7 linked regions of the Homo sapiens genome follow. The protein of the gene in region 7 interacts with the protein of the main gene of each other region in a pairwise test. Each region holds a gene or a part of one and is shown on either strand. Other genes may lie near its edges.

Region 1 (3,500 bases), on a different chromosome or scaffold from region 7:
TAAATACTCAAGGCCCTCCTGGAGTAATATTATAAATGTTACCATATGTTATCATTAACTAGCTAAAAAAGGAGGGCACAATTCAAACTCCATTCACCTATTTATTCAGGGAGTTAAAGGCCTGAAAAGACATTTCCCCCATATTTAATTAATTTTGTTGATTAGTACACAGTTCTGAGGTTCCATCATTTGCTGTAATAATGAAAAACAACGGTGATTTCTTGTTACACATACATTAGTATATTGATTCATATCAAATGCTCAGTATGATATTAATACATAATCTTCCACCAGCACTAGCTCCACAATGTGACTACTATTGTTTTAACAAATATTTTAGACTTTTAGCAGCTCACTTTATTTCTCATATTTCTGTATTAGACTGCAAATGACAAGTACTGCCAGAGACTGTCTCCAAAATCTAACCTCCAGATAAACATAATTTATATCAAATGCTACCAGCAACATGTACAGGACCAATGAGTCATGAATTGAAACAGAAGTTCAAAGAGTCAGTAAGCTTTCCTCGAAGACAGACAAAAACTGTTCTCCAGAGGTTAACAAGAGGAGATTGCAGGAAGAATGTATCCGTTCAGTGTCCCATAAGCCCAAGATCAGGCTGATAGAAGCCTTTGTAACTGGCCAGGTTAATCGGATGCTATCAAATAGGACAGCACAATTTTACATAGTTCTCAGTGTCGCTTATAGGGACTAACTTCAAAAATAGCCTGTATATTTAATACAACTCATTAATACAAGCCATTTTTGGAGTTCGTTCTTTTCAGTCGCACTGTAAAATTCTCCAGCACACATAGCAGCCTGAGAAGGGTCATTACACAATAACCAGAGTGGACGAGAAACTCATCCTGTGATATGCCCTCCTGGACAAAGGCGCTCCCCACGGACTCCAGCGTATGCTTTATACTCACCCAGGGAGGCAAATGCTCAGGTGTAAACCATCCCTGGCTCCCCACAACATGGTACTGAGTAGTATTAGGTGTCCAGGCTCTCCATCAGGGAGACCTGAGTTTGAATCCCACTGGCTGCCACCTGCTAACTCTGTGACACTGGGCAATCTTTAACTTCACGCCACATCTTCCTCATCCATGAAATGGGGATGACTCTACTTCCCTAAGAGGGCTGCTGTGCAGATGAAGTGAGCTCATGTCGGAAATGTTAACGCAGAGTCTGCACCCAGCAACCATTTACTGACTTCTTACTCTTGCTGTTATAATGATGAATAACCAGTTTGGCCAATCTAGGTCAGTTTTGTATAAAACTATCCAGTGATCAGAAACAAAAGATTATTTAGAAAAACTGCTTTCACATTTCCTCCTTTGTTTACAATTTCTTGAAAACATTCATACAAAATTTATTGAATTTGCTTTTTTTTTAGAAAATGCTTCTCATATTTATTCAGCCATGGTGCACTGTAAGACGCATACGCTGTGCCTGAAGCTGAAAAATGGTGTAAAATAGAAATAAAAATAACCATTCCCTAAACACAAACATCCAGTAGAGAACAGCAAATGAGGTCAGTGAAACAGCCCCCAACTTCTTTTTCCATCTTAGACATTTTTGGTGATGATCTTTCTCTCTGACAAGTGCTAGGTCAAATCCTCTATTCTGTATACATTTTATTCTGTGGGAGTTTTGAAGAACTCCTTCTTTTCTAGCTTCTAGAAAAAGACATTTGTTCTCTCTCGTTCTAGCTTCTACCTAGCAAATTAAGAAAAGTACAGGAATGGACAGCTTACTAAAAATCAGTGGCTGTGCTACATGGCTATGGCAAGATCAGAAACCCAAAGTTCTATATTTAAGGTATTATAATTATTCTCCAAGAAAGAATGGGTTTAAAAAAACTGCTTTAGGGCATGGGGATAAGTGGTGATATTTATAGGAAAATATTAACATGCCAGGTCAATGCAGTATATAAATCATTTCAAGTAAACAGTTGTAACTATGATTTTGGTGGACAGTATAGAGAATTCTGCCTTAATATATAGGAATTCAAAGGGAAAACCAGCTGACTTATTTTTTACTTCCAGAAAGTCTAGTAAATAATTCCTTAATGCATAATTTTTACTAATTGTTTTTGGACTGCTCAAACGTTTTCCAAATCAATAAAGTTTTACACTAAAAATAAGTTTCTTCTCCTTAAAGTGAATTTAAGTAGATTTTTGTGGTGAGGTATATAATAAAAGATAATGCTCTTCAGGTGGTAAGGAGCAAAACACAATTTACTCCCACTATGGGAAAAGTTGAACCCCTGAAGGAGATAAGGCCATTTCCCTCTTGATTTCAGGGGCTTGTGGAATTCTGCTTCTCCTGAGTTACAGTACATGGCGCTTGGACCTGCACAAAGGTTCTGAACATCAGGGGAGGAAAATGATAGCCTTCGAGTTAGGCTTGAGTAGTTTCGTACTTCACACTTGCAGAGTGAAGCACACTCACCAGCTTTCCTCGTTGCTGGGCCGACCTGGTTTCTCGCAAGGTGTACACATCTCCACAGACAGAGATCTCGCGCCAGACCCCGGGCTGGGACTCCTCGGTGAAGCCCCCTCGTGGATGCATCACCAGGACGCCATTAGTAGTGAGCCCATCCATGTGGCCGTCGGGGTTTTTCCACTTTGCTGCCTTTTCCTGGAGAGAACACAGCAGAACAGAAAAAGTAGGTTAAGATGATGTTGAAATGGAAAGGATTCTGGAATTTCTTTAATACATTGCATAGAGGCAGAGGGGAGGAAGGTGATGAATTTTCATTTTCTATTTAAAGCTAATAATCACAAGGATAACATATGCCATCCTTTCGACAATATAAAAGAAGTGCTGAATGGATGAATGACTTATCACTGGACACACATCATAGTTCTCAAGAACTTGCAAAAAATCGAGGCCTGGGCTTCTCCCTCTAAGATTCTTTTTACCTTCCCCACAACCCCATGAGATTCCAGGAATCTGGTGTGTTTTCTCTTTTCAGTTATACTTATGCCATGCTCCTATCCTGTTATCTAAAAGTACTTTCTATGTTCTCACTGTCAGGATAGAGAAGAGAAAGGACAGTCATAAAGAAAGACCTTTTATTAAAGCTAGAAAATTCCAAAAATGTTAAGCCAACAAGTCGGGGTCATTATGTTTTCATAATAATCACCGTTTAAATTCTCAAAGGTAGATGGCGCATGTAGCTTGACATGACGACAGGACAGACACTCTTGGGTGCTTGTGCCACAGCTCTTCCCTTCAGCTTTCTTGGTGACAGAGCTCAGCTACTGTTCATGTGGCTGGGGCGGGGGTTGGGGGGTGGTGGGGAATCCTGATTAACCCAACATGACACTCCCAGCCCTCTTCCCAATAGCTGGTTTACAGGTGGGCACAGCACATGACTGGGCTCTGACTGATGACACATGATATCTTCTTGGAGGCTTCCAAGAAAGGTGTCTGTGCTCTAAGAAGAGACAAGGAAGAAACAGTGCTTCTGCCACCCTCTTCTCTGGCTGGAA
Region 2 (3,500 bases), on a different chromosome or scaffold from region 7:
TCCACCTGCCTCAGCCTCCCAAAGTGGAAGGATTACAGGCGTGAGCCACCGCGCCAGGCCAGAAATCCAAGCTGCTTACCCGGTCTGACAAGCTATGCACCCGCCACACCCAGGGACCTTGAGTGAGTGTCCCGGACCACTGGCTGTACCGCCAGTGGTACCTCCCAGAAACACACCAAGCTTTCTCCCCCCGCAGACCCTTTCCAAATGCTGTCCCAAGGCCCATTCCTCCCCATGACTTCAGGCCCATTTTATTTTGATGGCTGACTGTGGGATCCCCTTTGCCTATAAGGGCACCTCCACAGAGCAAAGGGACTTTCCTGTGTATGACATTTCAGATGGAAGGAAGCCAGCTCAAAAATGCCCAGTGCTTCTTGGAAAACGTAGGCCCAGTATGGCAATCAGTTAAGGAACATGTTTGAGAAACACAGTTTCGAAAGGTTTAGGGAGACAGAAGGAAACTCCAGTTCAGGAACTAGTGGATCCAAAAGCAGTTTCACCAGGAAATCTGACCCTTTTCTCTTGAAATACAAGAGTCCCTTCTGAATTTAAACTGAAATCAAATATGCTCTTGATGTGGTGGGTTTTTTTTTTAAATTAGGCCAGCACATTATATTAAGGAAGTTGGGATAAAAAGTAAAACAAAGCTCAAGATAGTGGTTACCCTAGTGGGGAAGTGACAGAGAGAAGGCACTGGAGGCTTCTGGGGTGGTAGTTTTGTTGTTTCGTGGTCTGGATATAAGTTACAGAGCTGTAACGTAGCATCTGTAGGTGAAATTTCAGTAAAGTGTTCATCAGAAAGAATAGCGTCAGCCACAGAGTCAGGTGAAAGAAGATCAAGGAATAAGGGCTGTGTTTTGGGGGGTGATGGAAGTCGTACTTCATCAGCTGTGTGGCTGCACGAGCAGTTTCACCTCCCTGGGAATTAATGTCCTCATCTGTAAAATGAAGAGTTGTTCTAATCTAAAGATATGCAGAGATCGCACCCAGCTATAGAGATGTCTGATTCTGACACATAGACGCCTCTCTTAGGACAACTTGAGAAAAATGACATGTTTCCACCTTCTCGGATGTTAATTTGGGGCCACTCTTAGTCTGCAGACTGTCAACACAGATATAGAAAGGAGTCCGTGAAGTGCCTCACAAAGGCTGTGTTCCAAGCCTGTGAATTTGCCATGGGAAAACAGTTCAAAACCCGTGGCTCAGAGTTGCCCCGTCTACCAACAGCCGCTTCCATTTGGAATGTATTTTCTGGGCGGGTTTAGCCTCAGGGTTAATGGCTAGATGACATGAGCAGGGAGGAGACGCCTGCCTTTTCTGTGGATCAGAAAATGTGTAACTGATTGTTAACTGGTCTTCAAGTTCTTCTAGCTCCTTCCTTCTCAGAGTAGAGGAAGAAGAAAGTATTTAGAAAAACCAAAAGGTACATCTGAAGGTGACTTTAGAAAAGATGGGGTCCAACCTTCTCCCTATACAGAGGAGGAAGGAGAAACACAAAGGGTGTTGGGAGGTCCCCAATCACCCAGTGCAACATTGGCTGCCCCAGAAGCCAAATGAGATGGCACTCCTGAGTTGTAAGCCACAGACCACATCTCTTGCTAAGAGACTCCAAGCACAGAGAAGGCAAGAAATTAAAAATTATTATTATTTTTTTGAGACGGAGTTTTCCTCTTGTCACCCAAGCTGGAGTGCAGTGGCGTGATCTCGGCTCACTGCAACTTCCACTTCCCGGGTTCAAGCGATTCTCCTGCCTCAGCCTTCTGAGTAGTTGGGACTACAGATGCATACCACCACACATGGCTAATTTTTGTGTTTTTAGTAGAGACAGGGTTTCACTATGTTGGCCAGGCTGGTCTCAAACTCCTGACCTCAGGTGATCCACCCGCCTTGGCCTCCCAAATTGCTGGGATTACAGGTGTGAGCCACCGCACCCAGCCAATAAATTAAAACAATGTTTAAGTAAATAGGCTGGGCACAGTAGCTCACGCCTGTAATCCCAGCACTTTGGGAGGCTGAGGTGGGCAGATCACCTGAGGTCAGGAGTTCGAGACCAGCCTGGCCAACATGGCGAAACCCTGTCACTACTAAAAAATACAAAAAAAATTTAGCCAGGCGTGGTGGTGGGAGCCTGTGTTCCCAGCTACTTGGGAGGCTGAGGCAGGAGAATCTCTTGAACCCAGGAGGCAGAGGTTGCAGTGAGCCGAGATCACGCCACTGCACTCCAGCCTGGGTGACAGAGCGAGATTCTGCCTCCAAAAAAAAAAAAAAAAATTTTTTTTTTTAAGTAAATAAATAGGAAGGGAGGGAAGGAAGGGAGCAAACTTGTAGGTAGGGCAGACATGGAGGGAACTTAAGGAAGGAAAACAAGGCAGGAAATTCCCCTGGGGGGTTTTACTGTGGCCACCTCAAGAACTCTGCTCAGTGGTTAAAGGGACCCCCCCTGAATTTCCTTGCGGTTTCTGTTGTTTGCCACAGCCTGCACAAGCAAGGCCTCAAATGGTTGATGCACTTAACATCAAGGACAAATCTCATTGCTAATGCCCTGATCATTTTTCAAAGTTAAGTTTCAATAGTAAACTCATCTTTCCTTTCACACGGATGTCAGTCTAGCAGTTGATAGTGGACTCCATGTTTTTGAAACCTTGTGTTGTGTTTGGTCAATTTCATTCATGCAACAGGTATTTACTAAGTACCTTGTAGGAGCCTGTCATTGTATTGAGTGGCATGAGCAGGGAGGAGGTGCCAGCCTTGCCAGCCTTTTCTGTGGATCAGAAAACTTAACTGATTGTGAAGTGGTCTTCGAGGGTCCTCTGGTCAACCAACAGAGGACAGCGCATCTGTTTTCCTTTCAGGGAGAGGAAGGAATTGCTATTGATTTTTTGTTTTTTCTTTTCATGGCTTTGGAAGAAATTCAAGTTAACTTCAGTTAATGTCACTTGTTGTTCTTAGAAGAAACCTCAGCAAAGCTCTGCTCCGAGTCAGCTGCTCAGACAGCAGCTGAGCATGCCAGGCCTAGATCGGGGCCAGTTGTTCCAGAAAAGAGAGTTAGTGTCCACCTCATTGACTGCTTCAGAAGGCGCCACCAGCTTCCTCCTGGTGTTTGTAGCGAGTGCCTGTGCTGGCAGCTGTTCTATGTAACAACTGTCTGGTTCTATGTCTTGTAGCCCAGGGAGTTAGAAAATGTAAAGTATTCAAAATCTTCTAAGGAATCAACACTTTCCTGTTTGAAGACAACCTTGGAAGCTGGTGTGGAGAAGGCCTGAATGGTGAGTAGCACATTCCTGGGGCCCCCACAGCACATGCCTCAGGGAGCTTGGCCTTTCCCTGCACACAGACCTTGCCAAGACCCTCTGCCAGAGCTGTGGCCGGGTGGGATGTGTCATGGGAGCTGAAAGCAAAGCATCTGATGGCAGGAAATGCCTGCAGTGACTGAGGCCTGTGCACATCTGCTCTACATCTCAACACCTCATGAAGGCCAGGGCTTTGAGGGAAATAGCGCA
Region 3 (3,500 bases), on a different chromosome or scaffold from region 7:
CTGGAGTGCAGTGGTGCAGTCTTGGCTCACTGCAAGCTCCGCCTCCCGGGTTCACACTATTCTCCTGCCTCAGCCTCCCAAGTAGCTGGGATTACAGGTGCCCGCCACCACGCCTGGCTAATTTTTTGTATTATTTTTTTTCATTTGTGGGGTACAATGCAAAATGAAAATATGCGGCCCCTTGTTCAAAATTTATTAAACATTTCAAGATGATGACAACAGAGCATTAAATCAAATGCAGGTGAGAGAGGGGTAGACACATCCTAAGGTGCCCTGGGGTTCCGAGGAATACAGCATGAGAAACACTGAACGTAGAGCCTGAGACAAGGACCTGGGTCCAGGTGATTTACCTGACCCCAGGAAGCAGGAATGAGGGAGCAGGGAGGTAAGACAGGGAGGAGGAGAAGCCAATGTATGAGTAAGCTGTTGGGGTTGTTTCTGGGCATTATGGGATCATGATCCCACCAAACCTCCTGGGAATGCCCCAGAATCTCTGCCCGAAACACTGAGAGCTGAGGCATTTCTCCATCAACTCCCAACCCCATTGGTTGAAGGATGCCCCTGGGGGTGCTAGCTTTCTTGCATTTCTTTTTTTTTTTTTTTCTTCTGTTGTGTTTTTTTTGTTTTTGTTTTTGTTTTATTATACTTTAAGTTTTAGAGTACATGTGCACATTGTGCAGGTTAGTTACATATGTATACATGTGCCATGCTGGTGCGCTGCACCCACTAACTCGTCATCTAGCATTAGGTATATCTCCCAGTGCTATCCCTCCCCCCTCCCCCCACCCCACCATAGTCCCCAGAGTGTGATATTCCCCTTCCTGTGTCCATGTGATCTCATTGTTCAATTCCCACCTATGAGTGAGAATATGCGGTGTTTGATTTTTTGTTCTTGCGATAGTTTACTGAGAATGATGATTTCCAATTTCATCCATGTCCCTACAAAGGACATGAACTCATCATTTTTTATGGCTGCATAGTATTCCATGGTGTATACGTGCCACATTTTCTTAATCCAGTCTATCATTGTTGGACATTTGGGTTGGTTCCAAGTCTTTGCTATTGTGAATAATGCCACAATAAACATACGTGTGCATGTGTCTTTATAGCAGCATGATTTATAGTCCTTTGGGTATATACCCAGTAATGGGATGGCTGGGTCAAATGGTATACTTCAGCAAAGTCTCAGGATACAAAATCAATGTACAAAAATCACAAGCATTCTTATACACCAACAACAGACAAACAGAGAGCCAAATCATGAGTGAACTCCCATTCACAATTGCTTCAAAGAGAATAAAATACCTAGGAATCCAACTTACAAGGGACGTGAAGGACTTCTTCAAGGAGAACTACAAACCACTACTCAAGGAAATAAAAGAGGATACAAACAAATGGAAGAACATTCCATGCTCATGGGTAGGAAGAATCAATATCGTGAAAATGGCCATACTGCCCAAGGTAATTTACAGATTCAATGCCATCCCCATCAAGCTAACAATGACTTCACAGAATTGGAAAAAACTACTTTAAAGTTCATATGGAACCAAAAAAGAGCCCGCATCACCAAGGCAATCCTAAGCCAAAAGAACAAAGCTGGAGGCATCACACTACCTGACTTCAAACTATACTACAAGGCTACAGTAACCAAAACAGCATGGTACTGGTACCAAAACAGAGATATAGATCAATGGAACAGAACAGAGCCCTCAGAAATAACGACGCATATCTACAACTATCTGATCTTTGACAAACCTGAGAAAAACAAGCAATGGGGAAAGGATTCCCTATTTAATAAATGGTGCTGGGAAAACTGGCTAGCCATATGTAGAAAGCTGAAACTGGATCCCTTCCTTACACCTTATACAAAAATCAATTCAAGATGGATTAAAGACTTAAACGTTAGACCTAAAACCACAAAAACCCTAGAAGAAAACCTAGGCAGTACCATTCAGGACATAGGCATGGACAAGGACTTCATGTCTAAAACACCAAAAGCAATGGCAACAAAAGACAAAATTGACAAATGGGATCTAATTAAACTAAAGAGCTTCTGCACAGCAAAAGAAACTACCATCAAAGTGAACAGGCAACCTACAAAATGGGAGAAAATTTTCACAACCCACTCATCTGACAAAGGGCTAATATCCGGAATCTACAATGAACTCAAACAAATTTACAAGAAAAAAACAAACAACCCCATCAAAAAGTGGGCGAAGGACATGAACAGACACTTCTCAAAAGAAGACATTTATGCAGCCAAAAAGCACATGAAAAAATGCTCATCATCACTGGCCATCAGAGAAATGCAAATCAAAACCACAATGAGATACCATCTCACACCAGTTAGAATGGCAATCATTAAAAAGTCTGGAAACAACAGGTGCTGGAGAGGATGTGGAGAAATAGGAACACTTTTACACTGTTGGTGGGACTGTAAACTAGTTCAACCATTGTGGAAGTCAGTGTGGCGATTCCTCAGGGATCTAGAATTTTTTGTATTTTTAGTAGAGACGGGGTTTCACCGTGTTAGCCAGGATGGTCTCAATCGCCTGACCTCATGACTGGCCCGCCTGGGCCTCCTGACCTCATGACTGGCCCTCCTGGGCCTCCCAAAGTGCTGGGATTACAGGCGTGAGCCACCGCGCCCAGCCTTTACTAGTGAATTCTATTGAGCATATAAAGAAGAAATGATAGCAGTTATTTAATTCTTTTCAGAAAATTAAAAAAAAAGGAAAAAGTCTCAATTAATTCCATGAAGGAAAAAAATAAAAAGCATCTTGTATTTTGACGTGTATTTGTTTGCCAGTGGCTAAGCTGAGCAATGAAAAGCTGCACTGGTAAGTCTCAACACTAGAATACAGAGAATAGGAACCTATCAAACATGACTAGAGCTAATTGATCATCTCCACTACGTCAAATTTTTCTACTGCTCTGGATAAATTAATAAAAATGGGATTATCTCTTGCTACTTCTACATTCAATTATTCTTATAACTTCAGCAATTGATTCAGAAAAGCGGTCCTGCAGAGAACATTGTTAATATTAGAAAAAGCACAGCAACGCAGAGAAGGAAATAGCCTTCACTTTTCTTTAATCTCAGTGCTCAGGCTTCTTTCCACTTTTTACCTGAAGCAGCTCCATCACTGACCCCTGCAGCCGATGCTCCAGATCTGAGATGAGCTCTCTCAGGGACTGGGTCTGCTGCACCATCTCAGTTTCAGAGTTCGTAAGGCTTTTCAGAATGTCTTCCTCCTCCTTCTCCAGGTTTTGCAGCTCATTGCTCTCCTCCCAGTCCAGGATGTCTCTCAGTTGCTCAAAATCTGCCAAGACGTTGGTTTTGTCATACTGTATTTGAGTCTTCAGAGATAAGAGAAGAGAAAGGGGCACTCAGTCTACCAGGCAGAGGCTGTTAGCCAGAAAAGGAGCTGTTTCTTTTGGGGAGTTCTCACAAGGAGGGGACATAGTAGCAGGAGAGTAGGTCTTAGGAAAGCTGCCTT
Region 4 (3,500 bases), on a different chromosome or scaffold from region 7:
CTCATTAACATTCCAGCCAGCTTCCACTCTGTGCCTGCAGTAACCTGTGTGCCTGCAACTTCCTAAAAACAGAAAACGCTGAAGGTACCATTTGCCCCTAGCCAGTTACTGTTATCCATTTTCACACTGCTATAAAGAATTGCCAGAGATTGGGTAATTTATAAAGGAAAGAAGTTTAATTGACTCACAGTATCACATGGCTGGGGAGGCCTCAGGAAATACAGTCATGGGGGAAGGCGAAGGAGAAGCAAGTGTCTTCTTCACAAGGCAGCAGGAAAGGGAGAGAGCAGGGGCAACTGCCACTTATAAAACCATCAGTTTTCATGAGAACACACTGACTATCATGAGAACAGCATGGGGGAAACTGCCCCCATGATCCAATCACCTCCCACCATGTCCCTCCCCCGACACTGGAGATTATCATTCGAGATGAAATTTGGGTGGGGACACAAAGCCAAACCATATCACTAGTCTTATGAGATTGATTGTCATATCCTCTGAATCTAGAGGATGTAGAAAGGAGGAAACCAGTATTTTTGTTCATTGAGTATCTTCTGTATACTGGTATTTTATTTAATGTTCATAAAACCCAAAATGTGAGATCTAAATCTATTTTCCCCATTTTACAAATGAGGGCATTTAAATTGAAAGATTAAGTACCAGTCCAGAGTCACTTAGCTGGTACTTGCCAGTGTCTAGATTTCAGCCCGAGTATCCAGACACCAAAATCTCTGCCCTCTCCAGTGTTACCCGTAAACAAGTTTTGAAGTTGTAGTATTTTATTTTATTTTTTTGAGATGGAGTCTTGCTCTGTTGCCAGGCTGCAGTGCAGTGCCGCAATCTCGTCTCACTGCAACCTCCGCCTCTCAGGTTCAAGTGATTCTCCTGCCTCAGCCTCCCAAGTAGCTGGGATTACAGGTTCATGTCACCACTCTCGGCTAATTTTTGTATTTTTAGTAGAGATGGGGTTTCACCATGTTGGCCAGAATGGTCTCTATCTCTTGACCTCGTGATCTGCCCACCTTGGCCTCCCAAAGTGCTGGGATTACAGGCAAAGTTGTAGTTTTTGATTAACTATTGGAAAGCACATTTTGGCTCGTAAGTGTACATTTAAAGCACGTTTTTGAACTTGTGTAAGCAAATAAATTAGGAAGTAGGATCAAAGCAGGGTAGGTGCCTATAAATGAAGGCTTATCTAACCAGGTACATTTCTCAGCATTGAGACACTCACTCAGTCTTGGTTTTGCTTGTGTCTTCTTAATATTCAGATTATAATCCATATCCAGTCAAATATGTTGGAAAACCTGATAAAGACTCTAAAAAATGCTGCAGAAGGAAATTTATCAAAATTTGTGAAAAGACATGTGTTCTCGGAGGAAGTGGTGAGTATGCAAGTGCTGCAGAAATCATTTAAAAGTGAAAGGACACTCTTAAAAATGTCCACTAATTTCTCAATTCTAAAGCTTACCTTAAAGAAATTGCCAAATATGGCAGCTTCTCTGTTGTTCCTGTTTTAAGACTTCCATGTATATGTGCAAAGATTTTTTTTTCTTCCAACAGAATATATCCTCTGAAATTCTAGGAAACTTTTCCCTTTTACCTTATTCTTTTCTCCACATTGTATTCATGGGCCCTGGCTCTCTTTTTCTTCTAGATGACGATTTTACACCTTTTTCCTTTTCCCTCAAGCCTTCAATACCTTCTCCTCACTTTTCACTCTCAGTTGATCACTGTATTTCTTGTTTCTTGGAGAAAATAGAAGTAATCAGAAAAGCATGACTGCTACATAGAGAGCCTCTGGCCCCTTGCCCTATATACCCATGATGACTGGATACATCTCTCACACCAGCCTCTTCAGTCATGCACTGGATCCCATCCTCTCTGACCCACTCCACAGCATCAGTCCAGAAGTTGACTCACTCTTTTGGCTATCATCAGTATCCCCTTCCCTGTGGGTCATTCTTGTCAGCAAACAGTAGGATATAGTATCTCTCATCTTAAAAAATAAAAAGAATCTTCTGTACAAATGAAAAGACAGACCATATGTTTAGATAAGAAGACCTAGCCTCATAAAAACTCAGTTTTTTTCAAGTTACTGTGATAATGTAATATGACTCCAATAAAAATATCACTTTGTTTTTTCTGTAAAGGTTAGTTGAAAGAACAAACAAGACTAGCTAGAAAAACCCTGTGAAAGAGGGGCAGTAAGAGTTGCTAGGTCTAGCAGATATCAAAGCATGTTAAAGTTTCTATAATTCAAACTGTGGCTTAGGACATGAATAGGGCAGCTAATGGGACAGAATAGAAAGTCCGGATACAGACCAAATTGCAGATACAAATTTAGTGTAACATAGAGACAAGCATCTCAAATCAATCTAAGTGGATAGACTAGTAAGAAGTAGTACTAGGATAAGTAGAGAGCCAATAGAAAAAGATACAGTTGTATATATTCTTATACCACAAACCAGGATACATTTCAAATGGATGAGAATTTAAATTTTTAAATTGAAATACACAAGTACTAGATATAAACATTAGTAGATTCTTTAATATCCTGGGAGTGGAAAAACTTAGCTTTCAGTCAAAATCCAAATCAGTAAAAGAAGTGATAAATTTGACTAAATAAAAATGTTAAAACCTGTTTTTTCATGTGGCAAAAAGTCTACAAGCAAAGTCAAGAGGTAAGTAATCAATTTTTAATCATACTGACAAAAGGCTAACTAGCCCTAATATTTCAAGAGCTCTTTTTGAGGCCAGGTGCGGTGGCTCATGCCTATAATCCCAGCACTTTGGGAGGCTGAGGCAGGCGGATCATGAGGTCAGGAGATCGAGACCATCCTGGCCAAAATGTAACCCCGTATCTACTAAAAATATAAAAATTAGCTGGGCGTGGTGGTGCATGCCTGTAGTCCCAGGTACTCAGGAGGCCGAGGCACGAGAATCGTTTGAACTAGGGAGTCGAGATTGCGCCACTGCGCTCCAGCCTGGCGACAGAATGAGACTCCATCTGAAAAAAAAAAAAAAAAAAAAAAAAAAGCTCTTTTTGAAAATTCTGAGAAAAGAACCAACAACCCTGAAGAAAAATGGGTAAGAGATGTGGACAGAATTTACTAAAAATGAATTGTGAATGGCCTTTAAACTTTCGAAAAGATTCTCTTGCCCATATCAAGAAAATGCTAAATAAAACTACCCTATGATATTTCTCTTGAATAGAAATCTGCAAGTTTGCCAGCCAACTTGGTTGGTGAGGCTCTGAGGAAATGGGCGCTATCATCTGAGGAAATGCTGCTACAGCGAATACAGATTGGTACACTACAAATACTTTCACCCTTTGACTCAATCCTCCCACTTCTTGGAGTATATTCTAAAAATATACTGGCAAATATAAAGAAGTTGTATGTACAAGGCTATTTGTTGCAATCCAATTTCTAATAACAGCAGACTGGAAAAAAGCCCAAATTTCCATCACTAGACAACTAGTTGTACAAATTAGGGTCTGT
Region 5 (2,852 bases), on a different chromosome or scaffold from region 7:
AAACTCCATATTTACAAAAAATACAAAAAATTAGCCGGACATGATGGTGTGTGCCTGTTGTCCCCGCTACTAGAAGGCTCAGAAAGAAGGATCACTTGAGCCTGGGAGGCGGAGGTTGCAGTGAGCCAAGACTGTGCCACTGCACTCCAACCTGGGCAACAGAGACCCCAGCTCAAAAAAATAAAATTAGTGTTAACTTGTACTGTTTAGCCACATTCATTAAGTTTTTAATTTTAACTCTACTATCGCACAACCAGGAATGTACAAGAGATCTGGAGCCTGATTTGCATGGCAGGAAGGAGACCACGTATTTTTGTTTGGGATGGGTTTTAGCCACTATCAGAGACATAGTTTGTTTCTTAGGGGTTCGGTCCCAGTAGTATGATACTTAGTTCATTTAGGAACTTCCTTTTTTAACGGCTAAGAAAACATTTTAGCTACTAAATGATATGCAAAGATAACTTTCCAAATTTAAGCTGTACTCAAAAATCCACAGAATCTGCAAAACTCTCAAGTTTCTATATTTAAATAGAAATGTGTGTTGATATACATACTTTAATCAGTCATTTCTTGCTTTCAATATATTTTATTCTGACGAAGTTACAAAAGTAGATACAAAATACTTTTTTTAGAAGTACAGTTAACTGACTTAGAAAAATAGATAAAGCCCCTAAGGATTTTAAAACACAACATAAATTTTTATGTAAAGAACATTTAAAAATATTTTAGATGGTAACCAAAACTAACTTACACAAACTATTTTTGATGTAGAATAGAATGCTGTTCTATAATAAGAAGTCTGTAGCACACTGGTAATCCATTTGGATCTACAGAATACTTGTTTGGAACAGAATCTGATAATGAGAGAAAACTCAAATGAATGTCAGTGCAGTTGCTTCAAAAAAATTACTGCTACCACATGTACTATCATCCCCCAAGGCCTTTTACAGTCTGAAATATCAAAATTGAAAGCAAAAATAGGATGACCAAAGGACTACTATTTTACCTCTTTTCAGAACTCTACAATAGTAGAAACTAAATTCCCTTATGGATCTCAGGGGGAAATAATGTGCCTGTTGAAGGGGCTCAGTGTTTGGTGTCCAGGCTGGCATTTTTCAGGTGAGGGTTTCATACTGACAGGAGGCAGGCTCCTAAAACAAGGCGGTAGCACCAGCACCATGACTAGGGCTGCTTTAAAACAAATTTCTAGGACTTACGCTCTTTGGGCCTGATTTGTTAATGCTTATGAGGTAATGATATTATGTTTGAGAAGCTCTACTTCTAGTATACCTCAATGCTCAGAGAGAAAGCCAACAATACAATCAGGAAACCACAATATTGACAAAACTTAGTACTACCACCAAGATTGTTCCTCTTGCCTTGGCACTACTAAAAAACTTTACCTTTGTTACTAAAGTCATGGTGAATACAGATTTTGCATTTCTCATGTAAGCAGCTATATAAGCTAGGGTTCTACAAGCCTTAGATGAAAGGAAAAACTTTGCTGGAAGCCCTGTAAAAATCACTTTATTCACAATCTGAAGAATGAAAGACAAATTTGGCTGTCAATACAAAAACTGTAGTACAAGGAAGTTCAACTGTTTAAAAATCTGCACATCACTGTACAAGTGTTTTTTGAAGGCCTGAAAATTAAAGCACCATAGGATTAACTGCATAATTTAGCAAGCACTCTCTACCCCATGACTGTAATCATGTATGAAGAGCAGAGATCAGACACTGAGAGGAGATGGCTTCTGATTAGCAAGGGGGAAGGGAGTGAGTGTTATGGAACAGGCAAACCTTGGGCATGGGGAGATAAAAGTGAGAAGAGTCAAAAAGATTGATTTCTATAGGCCGGGCACGGTGGCTCATGCCTGTAATCCCAACACTTTGGGAGGCTGAGGCGGGCGGATTGCGAGGTAAGGAGATGGAGACCATCCTGGCTAACACGGTGAAACCCCATCTCTACTAAAAATACAAAAAATTAGCCAGGCATGACTAAAAATAGAAAAAATTAGCTGGGCGTGGTGGCGGGCACCTGTAGTTCCAGCTACTCAGGAGAGGCTGGGGCAGGAGAATGGCATGAACCTGGGAGGCAGAGCTTGCAGTGAGCCGAGATCCCACCACTGTACTCCAGCCTGGGTGACAGAGTGAGACTCTGTCTCAAAAAAAAAAAAAAAAAAGATTGATTTCGTCAAACTGTTATCAAAGGTTGGCCCTCTAGCCAACTCAGGAAGGCGCCATCCTCTTCCCATTATCTCCCCTTCCTCCAATTCTCCTCCTCCCCTTGGCTCCCTAGCCTTGGAGGTAAACACTAATATTTCAGTGCACTGTTGGTTAAGCCAGATTGGCTTGGGAACCTGGTAATGTTTTTATTTTTATTTTAAAAAAGGACAGTCTTGAGTCTCAAAATACCAACACATCTCTGATTTATGTCCCATTTATAAGCTGCCTTTACTACTGTCCTGACATGTGATCGTCTTTCATTTGCTTTGGAGCTTAGTGGTGAAGAGAGGGAACATTTCCATAACTGAAAATAAATGGAGAAAAGTGGTAACTCTTTTGTTTGAGAATATTTGAAATACTAGAAATAATGAGGAAAGTACAAGCCTAGCTGAGAAACTAGTTTCATCACTTGTGGACTTAAAAAAGTAAAGCTAACAGGGTTTAAAGTTGAGAGGCAGTTCACATCCTAAGTGATACCTAGAAACCTGCTTTCTTGTTCGCAAATGATCAACATGAACATACAGAATGGCTGACATTTGGACCTTTGGATAAGCTTAAAACATGGATTGTGGAATGTCTAATAGAGGGCTTTTCTCTCTTTTTTTTAATAATGACTGTCCCACACT
Region 6 (3,500 bases), on a different chromosome or scaffold from region 7:
AGGAAATCAAGGATGAATTAGACCTGTTTCCTGATTTTGGGGAGCTTGCAGTCCAATAGGGGAAGACAGATAAGTAAGCAGTGTGTGCTTTATAGTATTAGTGTTCTAACAGAAATCTGCTCAGGGTACTGTTGGGTGTGTAGCAAAGGAAGCTCCCCCAAAACCAAAGCTATTAATTCTCCCTAGGAAAATAAATCAGAAAAGGTATCCTAGAGGACGATTCATTTGTTCCAACTCTTACAACAACATGAACAACTGCTTGCTGGACAGACTGAGGAAGAGAAGAGGAGAAAATGAGTTGCCAGGCAGAGGGGAACTGGAGACTGACCATTTCTAAGGTAACTTTAGAACTCTATGAATGTTTTTTTTATCTGAATTGACCCAAGCAATGTGAGTGCAGAAAAGCATGAAGATATAAGTATGAGCAGGATTGCCTGGTGTGTTAGGGAGAGTCTAGGTGTGAGGATTAGATATGCAACAGAACTAGAGCTTACACCTGTGGAGAAGGTGGGATCCACTGAAAGATTTTAAACTGAAAAACAGGAGAAAAGAGCAGAAAGCTCTTTCCTAGTAACAGTAAAGTTAAGGGTTTTCTTTATAATTGTCAGTGATTTTCTTTTCCTTCCCATTATCTTAAAAATCTTTTGTAATGTGGGCATATTTGTTTTATTAATGTTTTCGAAAAATAAAAAGACAAAATTGTGTTATCTACTGGCTTTCCATGATATATTTGGCAACACTTTGGTGTCACTTTGCATTACTCTTTAATAGTAAGAACAATCATAATGTTAACTAACTAGAGGTTCAGCATCCTAAATCTGAAAATCTGAAATCCTAAATACCCCAGAATTCAAAACTTTTTGAGGACCGACATGATGTGCAAAGGAAATGCTCACTGGAGTATTTCAGATTTCAAATTTTCAAATTTGGGATGCTCAAATGGTAAGTATATGTAATGCAAATATTCAAAAATTGGAAAAATTTCCAATTCCTAAGCATTTCAGATAAGAAATACTCGACCTGTATTAACTATTGAGTTATTTTCTTGGACCAGGCACAGTTCCGAATTCTTTACACACATTAATTAATTTCCTCCTCACAGGTTACATGAGGTAACAACAGCCCCATTTTACTGATGAAGAAATTGAGACATTGAGAAGTGGAAAAATTTGTCCAATGATAGATACAAAGGTATCAAGTGGCAGAACCAGGATGTGAAGCCAAGCAAGCTAACTCAGAGCCCCACATTTTCCTTTTATCAAATTATTCTGCAATTCAAAATTTTCACCAGTTCATTCTGGTTTGCCCTTACTCATTACATTTTGGGATCATTTTGCTATTCTTAGGGCAGACTCTAGTTTAGGTGGATGAGATCAGAATATGTCTCAGTTTAAAGGAATCCAAAGGATTAACCCCAGATTTCTGCATATCACACTCACTCACTCCCTTAAATTTTTTGCTCAAATGTCTCCTTCCTAGAACACAACCTCACACAAGTAGATCCTCAATACATATTTGTAGAATGAATGAATGAACTGAACATTGAATCTTTCCTAAAGATTATATTTTACTTAGTATGCTAAGATGACTAGCCAGGAAAGTATTATTTTATTTATTTTCAAATACAAGAAATAGAAGAAATGCAATTTATATTATAATTCTATATTTAAAAACTCAATTATGCCAGAGTATTTTATATTCCAAGTATTCTAGATAATCAAAATGTAATTATTTATCTTCAGATATTATTGGTGATAAGTAGGTCATGGATAGATTATTGCTAAGCTAGCTCTAAGAGGTCAAAGCAAGTTCACTGAAATAATTCATTTTAGCATTAGATGAGAAAGGAGGCATTTTTAAGGACCAGAAATAACACAACACTGGGTGGATGTGGTGGCTCTTGCCTGTAATTCCAGCATTTTGGGAGGCTGAGGTGGGAGGATTGCTTGAGCCCAGGAGTTTGAGGCCAACCTGAGCAACATAGTGAGACCCCGTCTCTACAGAAAATTTAAAAAATTAGCCATCCATGGTAGGGCATGCCGGTGGTCCCAGCTACTTGAGGGGCTGAGGTGGGAGGATCACTTGAGCCCAGGAGGTTGAGGCTGCAGTGAGCCAGGATTGTGCCGTTGCACTCTAGCCTGGGTGACAGAGCAAGATCCTGTCTCAAAAAGAAAAAAAGAAAAGAAAAGAAATAGCACAACACTGAGGTATGCTTCTAAGGACCATGGGTCCAGTGGGTAAAGGTGGCATCTGAGAAACAGGCATCTGAGGAGAGGAGAAAATCCTTGGTATAAATTGTTCACTGGGTTTGATGTGAACACTATTGGGACAGAAAGTAGCTAACTAGCACTGTCAGAAACAAAAAACAAAAGTGAACATTTTAAGTTGTAGTCATTCGATCCACCTCTCTCAGGAAGGCAAGGTCCATAAATGAAGAAAGATCTAAAAGGCTTGCTCAACATCAGGAAGTGAAGTTAGGAACCAAAAGAAAACCTAAGGTTATATTTTCAGAATTGAAACCATCTAAATAATTATTTTATTCTTTTATAAGATATGCATTCTTTGGTCTTGAGGGGCCTTAACTATCAATTTCACTTTAAATAATAGTTTTTATAATTTAAGTAAGTTCCACTTTGTAGCCTTCATATAGAAGTATGGATTTAAATAAACTTCTCAAATTCTTTAAACACTTAAATATGCATTGTATATTTTAATCCTTGTAGTTTGAATAATTAGGGTAATTAAAAGTATTAAAGAGAGGATTATATGAAATCCATTCTTACCTGTAGGGCAAGTAAGATGCTGCTCAATGTATAGTTTGTATTCCACTTCTCAGGGTTGTCCAAAAAGTCTATACAGGGCTGACCAGTGTGTGGGTCTACTGTATTAAAATAATACATTAATATTTGCATTTATAATAAATTATTATTTAAAACTTACAAACATCAAAATGATAAGCCAGAAAAATTATCTGCATTTACTCTTCCTTTTTCCTAGTTCTTCTCTCTGTACTGAGAAGCACTATACCCATCCCTGGTTCCCACCCATTACCATGTTGTTTTAGCTGAATACATAGGTGCCCCTACAGTTTTTCCTATCCTCTCCTTTAGCAAGATGTGGCCTTGTGACTAAGTTTTTGTTGTGGGACATAAGGATAAGTGTGCAATTTCTGAGTCTTTTTTTAAAGGAAGCTGGCTTTCCTTCTTTTCTTCCCCCTTCCCCCAGACTGGAAATGGTGACAAACAGTAAATGCCTTAGTCCCAGAAATGGAATCTTCACATTGAGGATGGGCACAACCTCCCTCCAGCGTTGTCCTGTTATGTTAAGTTGGAAAGATGTACAGGAGCTTGGCATATGCCCTAACACAGTTAAGTAATTTAGTGTTTGAAAAAATAATAGAGTTAAATAAGAAAAATAAAACTGTAGAATGACTAGAAGAAACTTAAAATGACTATTTGATTTTCTTTTGGGAAAGGATCATCTAAGATGAAAGACAACTG
Region 7 (2,248 bases):
ATCGACTGTACTAAGCACAGCCTAAAATATTCACATCAAAGGGGAAAAAGGAAAAAGACTCAGATCACACTTCCATTTTGAGCCAACAGATAACTGCTTTACTTGAGGGAAAAGGCATGACTGGTTTAGATGGGTAGAGATCTAAATGCTGAATGTCACTCAGTGATGGCACCTCTTTCAAAAGCACAGACAGCTGGAGGATTCCTGGCCTCATTTACCTTCAGCCTGCCCACAATATTATATTTCTCTCTCCACTGCAAACTGTGTGCCAAAGGCCTGAGCCACTGTTATTGCCTCAGCAAGTCCCCCACTGACAGCAAAGACAGATCTCCTGCTGCTGGGTGCCCCCACAGATAAAGTGGCTCTAATAACTAGTGGAGTCATTTGTGATGCACTTTCAATTGGATCAATTTCCTCTCAATTACCCAATCTTTGAAAATCGGATGCAATTTCATAATCAGAATATGGGGCTTTCTCCAGATGAAAAGAACAAGACAAACTAGTTCAACATCATTTTAATGACCTCTTTACCTATCCTTTGGCAGCTATTATGATACAATCCAAAGAAACACTACTACCATAAAAACAATTTTGAGCAGCTCAGTTTAGCAAATTTTGTTTACATCAAAGTAAGGCAGTTGCTCTTTGGCTTGCCATCAGCCCTGCACCTAGAGTAAGATATATTACTTAGTAAACACCAAACCCTCAGGAACCTCATCACAGGTCCTCTCACCCACTTCTGATCTTAAAAACAAGACTAACTTCCTTTTTGTGAACTGTAATTATAAACATAAAACATACAGCAGAAGCTCAGAATAGGGTATTGGTGACTCTAAACCTTGGGGGATGATTCTGTACACATGTATTTGGGAGAAAGATTTGGATTATTATCTTTACATAATAGTGCTTTTGGCTGAATTTTGACCTGGGTAGATATCTACACTCTGAAAGAACACAGTGAGATAAGGAAGCAAAATGGCATAGCGCAGGTTATCCCTCTTATCATCTCCAAAATTCCGTATTTAATTAAAAGACATGAACACCAGAGATGAAGAAACAGTTCTCAATTATTTAATGCTTGATAGAGAAATGGAAAGAAATCCTGAAACCAAATAGTATGTACTGACTTGAGGAAAACACAGAATAACAAACCAATAGTTTTGCTGTTTGTTTTAGTAATGAACATGAAAATGTGTCCACCTCTCCACTTTGTTGGCCCTGGCCTATGTTGTACAATTCCTTAGACACAGGCCAGAAGAGAGAGGTAGTATGAAAAATGATGAGCCCTAGAGACTATCCAAATTTGCTGACTATATCAGCATTTGTTTGCTTATTCCCAGCTTCCTATGCTTTGGCATAATTCCAACCCATATATGCTTCTTTAAAAGGCAAGCAATTTCCAGGCTGAAGTCATCAATACCAACCAACTAGGGTCAATCCATTCTGTCACATCTGCAATTCTCAATCCAAGATGGCACAGATCCTCCAGGCGAGAGGTACTGCTTCCTAAAGGGCTTGTGTATCCCCTTTGGTAGCACTAAATGAATGACTTTCATACTGGTAAAGACGATCAGACTGAGACATAATGTTACGGGAATATGATGTCTTAAATGTCACTGAAAGGTGGAGCAGATCCCACTGAAGCATGCACAGTGAATCCAATCAGAGTTCAAGAGAAAGTGTCACAGATGAAGCACATTATAGTAGGAAGGAAACAATGGATCAAGGGCATCAAAGCCAAATGGGAAAAAATCAAGGATTTAATACAAGGGCAAATTTCAAACATGGCACAAAGGGCTAAAGTGGCTCTCTCTACTAAAGCCTTGGAAGTGCCTAATTGCTAATCAAACTTCAGCTAACACCATCGTGTGTCCTATTTGGGCAGTGCATCTTTTAAAGCTCTAAATTTAGGTGGGAAGCGGGGAGGGGGACATAACAAATAAAAACATTAAAAGATGGAGCTTCTGAAGTTCTAGAACTACCCAGCTGGAATCAGGACATAGGCTGAGTCTATTCTGCATGTGCCACTAACAACCAAGAACTAAGGGAAGGGAAGTTGGCTTGGGAGCAGAAGAAACTGATAATTTCTCATCCCCTATGGGGTGGAATATCTTCTCAGATGGTAGCTGTAGATCTTGATGCAATGATCCCAACAGTCCAAGACCAGCAGCTGCCCCTTAGGAGTTAGGGCTATGCCCACCGGACAGGTAAGTCCCTCTCGAATAAGGACACTATAGCCCCCACCCTT

What was found.
Region 1: the proteins of TRIM32 (region 7) and PELI2 interact in binary tests that used the Homo sapiens proteins (3 or more experiments, as listed by UniProt).
Region 2: the proteins of TRIM32 (region 7) and CASS4 interact in a two-hybrid assay, tested with the Homo sapiens proteins (one large-scale study listed by IntAct).
Region 3: the proteins of TRIM32 (region 7) and TRIM5 interact in a two-hybrid assay, tested with the Homo sapiens proteins (one large-scale study listed by BioGRID and IntAct).
Region 4: the proteins of TRIM32 (region 7) and PTCD2 interact in binary tests that used the Homo sapiens proteins (3 or more experiments, as listed by UniProt).
Region 5: the proteins of TRIM32 (region 7) and MOB1A interact in binary tests that used the Homo sapiens proteins (3 or more experiments, as listed by UniProt).
Region 6: the proteins of TRIM32 (region 7) and UBE2U interact in binary tests that used the Homo sapiens proteins (3 or more experiments, as listed by UniProt).

What each region holds. Positions count from the first base shown.
Region 1 is NC_000014.9:56,289,411-56,292,910, reverse strand, and holds part of PELI2 (E3 ubiquitin-protein ligase pellino homolog 2), read right to left. Parts: intron 2,644-3,500; coding exon 2,455-2,643; intron 193-2,454; coding exon of another isoform or gene 145-192; exon of another isoform or gene 1-144. UniProt on the Homo sapiens protein: E3 ubiquitin ligase catalyzing the covalent attachment of ubiquitin moieties onto substrate proteins. Involved in the TLR and IL-1 signaling pathways via interaction with the complex containing IRAK kinases and TRAF6.
Region 2 is NC_000020.11:56,439,760-56,443,259, reverse strand, and holds part of CASS4 (cas scaffolding protein family member 4), read right to left. Parts: intron 1-3,500. UniProt on the Homo sapiens protein: Docking protein that plays a role in tyrosine kinase-based signaling related to cell adhesion and cell spreading. Regulates PTK2/FAK1 activity, focal adhesion integrity, and cell spreading.
Region 3 is NC_000011.10:5,675,075-5,678,574, forward strand, and holds part of TRIM5 (tripartite motif-containing protein 5), read right to left. Parts: intron 3,361-3,500; coding exon 3,130-3,360; intron 1-3,129.
Region 4 is NC_000005.10:72,351,373-72,354,872, forward strand, and holds part of PTCD2 (pentatricopeptide repeat-containing protein 2, mitochondrial), read left to right. Parts: intron 1-1,268; coding exon 1,269-1,382; intron 1,383-3,500. UniProt on the Homo sapiens protein: Involved in mitochondrial RNA maturation and mitochondrial respiratory chain function.
Region 5 is NC_000002.12:74,152,028-74,154,879, forward strand, and holds the end of MOB1A (MOB kinase activator 1A), read right to left. Parts: 3' UTR 501-2,852; downstream 1-500. UniProt on the Homo sapiens protein: Activator of LATS1/2 in the Hippo signaling pathway which plays a pivotal role in organ size control and tumor suppression by restricting proliferation and promoting apoptosis.
Region 6 is NC_000001.11:64,210,123-64,213,622, reverse strand, and holds part of UBE2U (ubiquitin-conjugating enzyme E2 U), read right to left. Parts: intron 2,882-3,500; coding exon 2,784-2,881; intron 1-2,783. UniProt on the Homo sapiens protein: Catalyzes the covalent attachment of ubiquitin to other proteins.
Region 7 is NC_000009.12:116,699,552-116,701,799, reverse strand, and holds the end of TRIM32 (E3 ubiquitin-protein ligase TRIM32), read right to left. Parts: coding exon 2,096-2,248; 3' UTR 501-2,095; downstream 1-500. UniProt on the Homo sapiens protein: E3 ubiquitin ligase that plays a role in various biological processes including neural stem cell differentiation, innate immunity, inflammatory resonse and autophagy.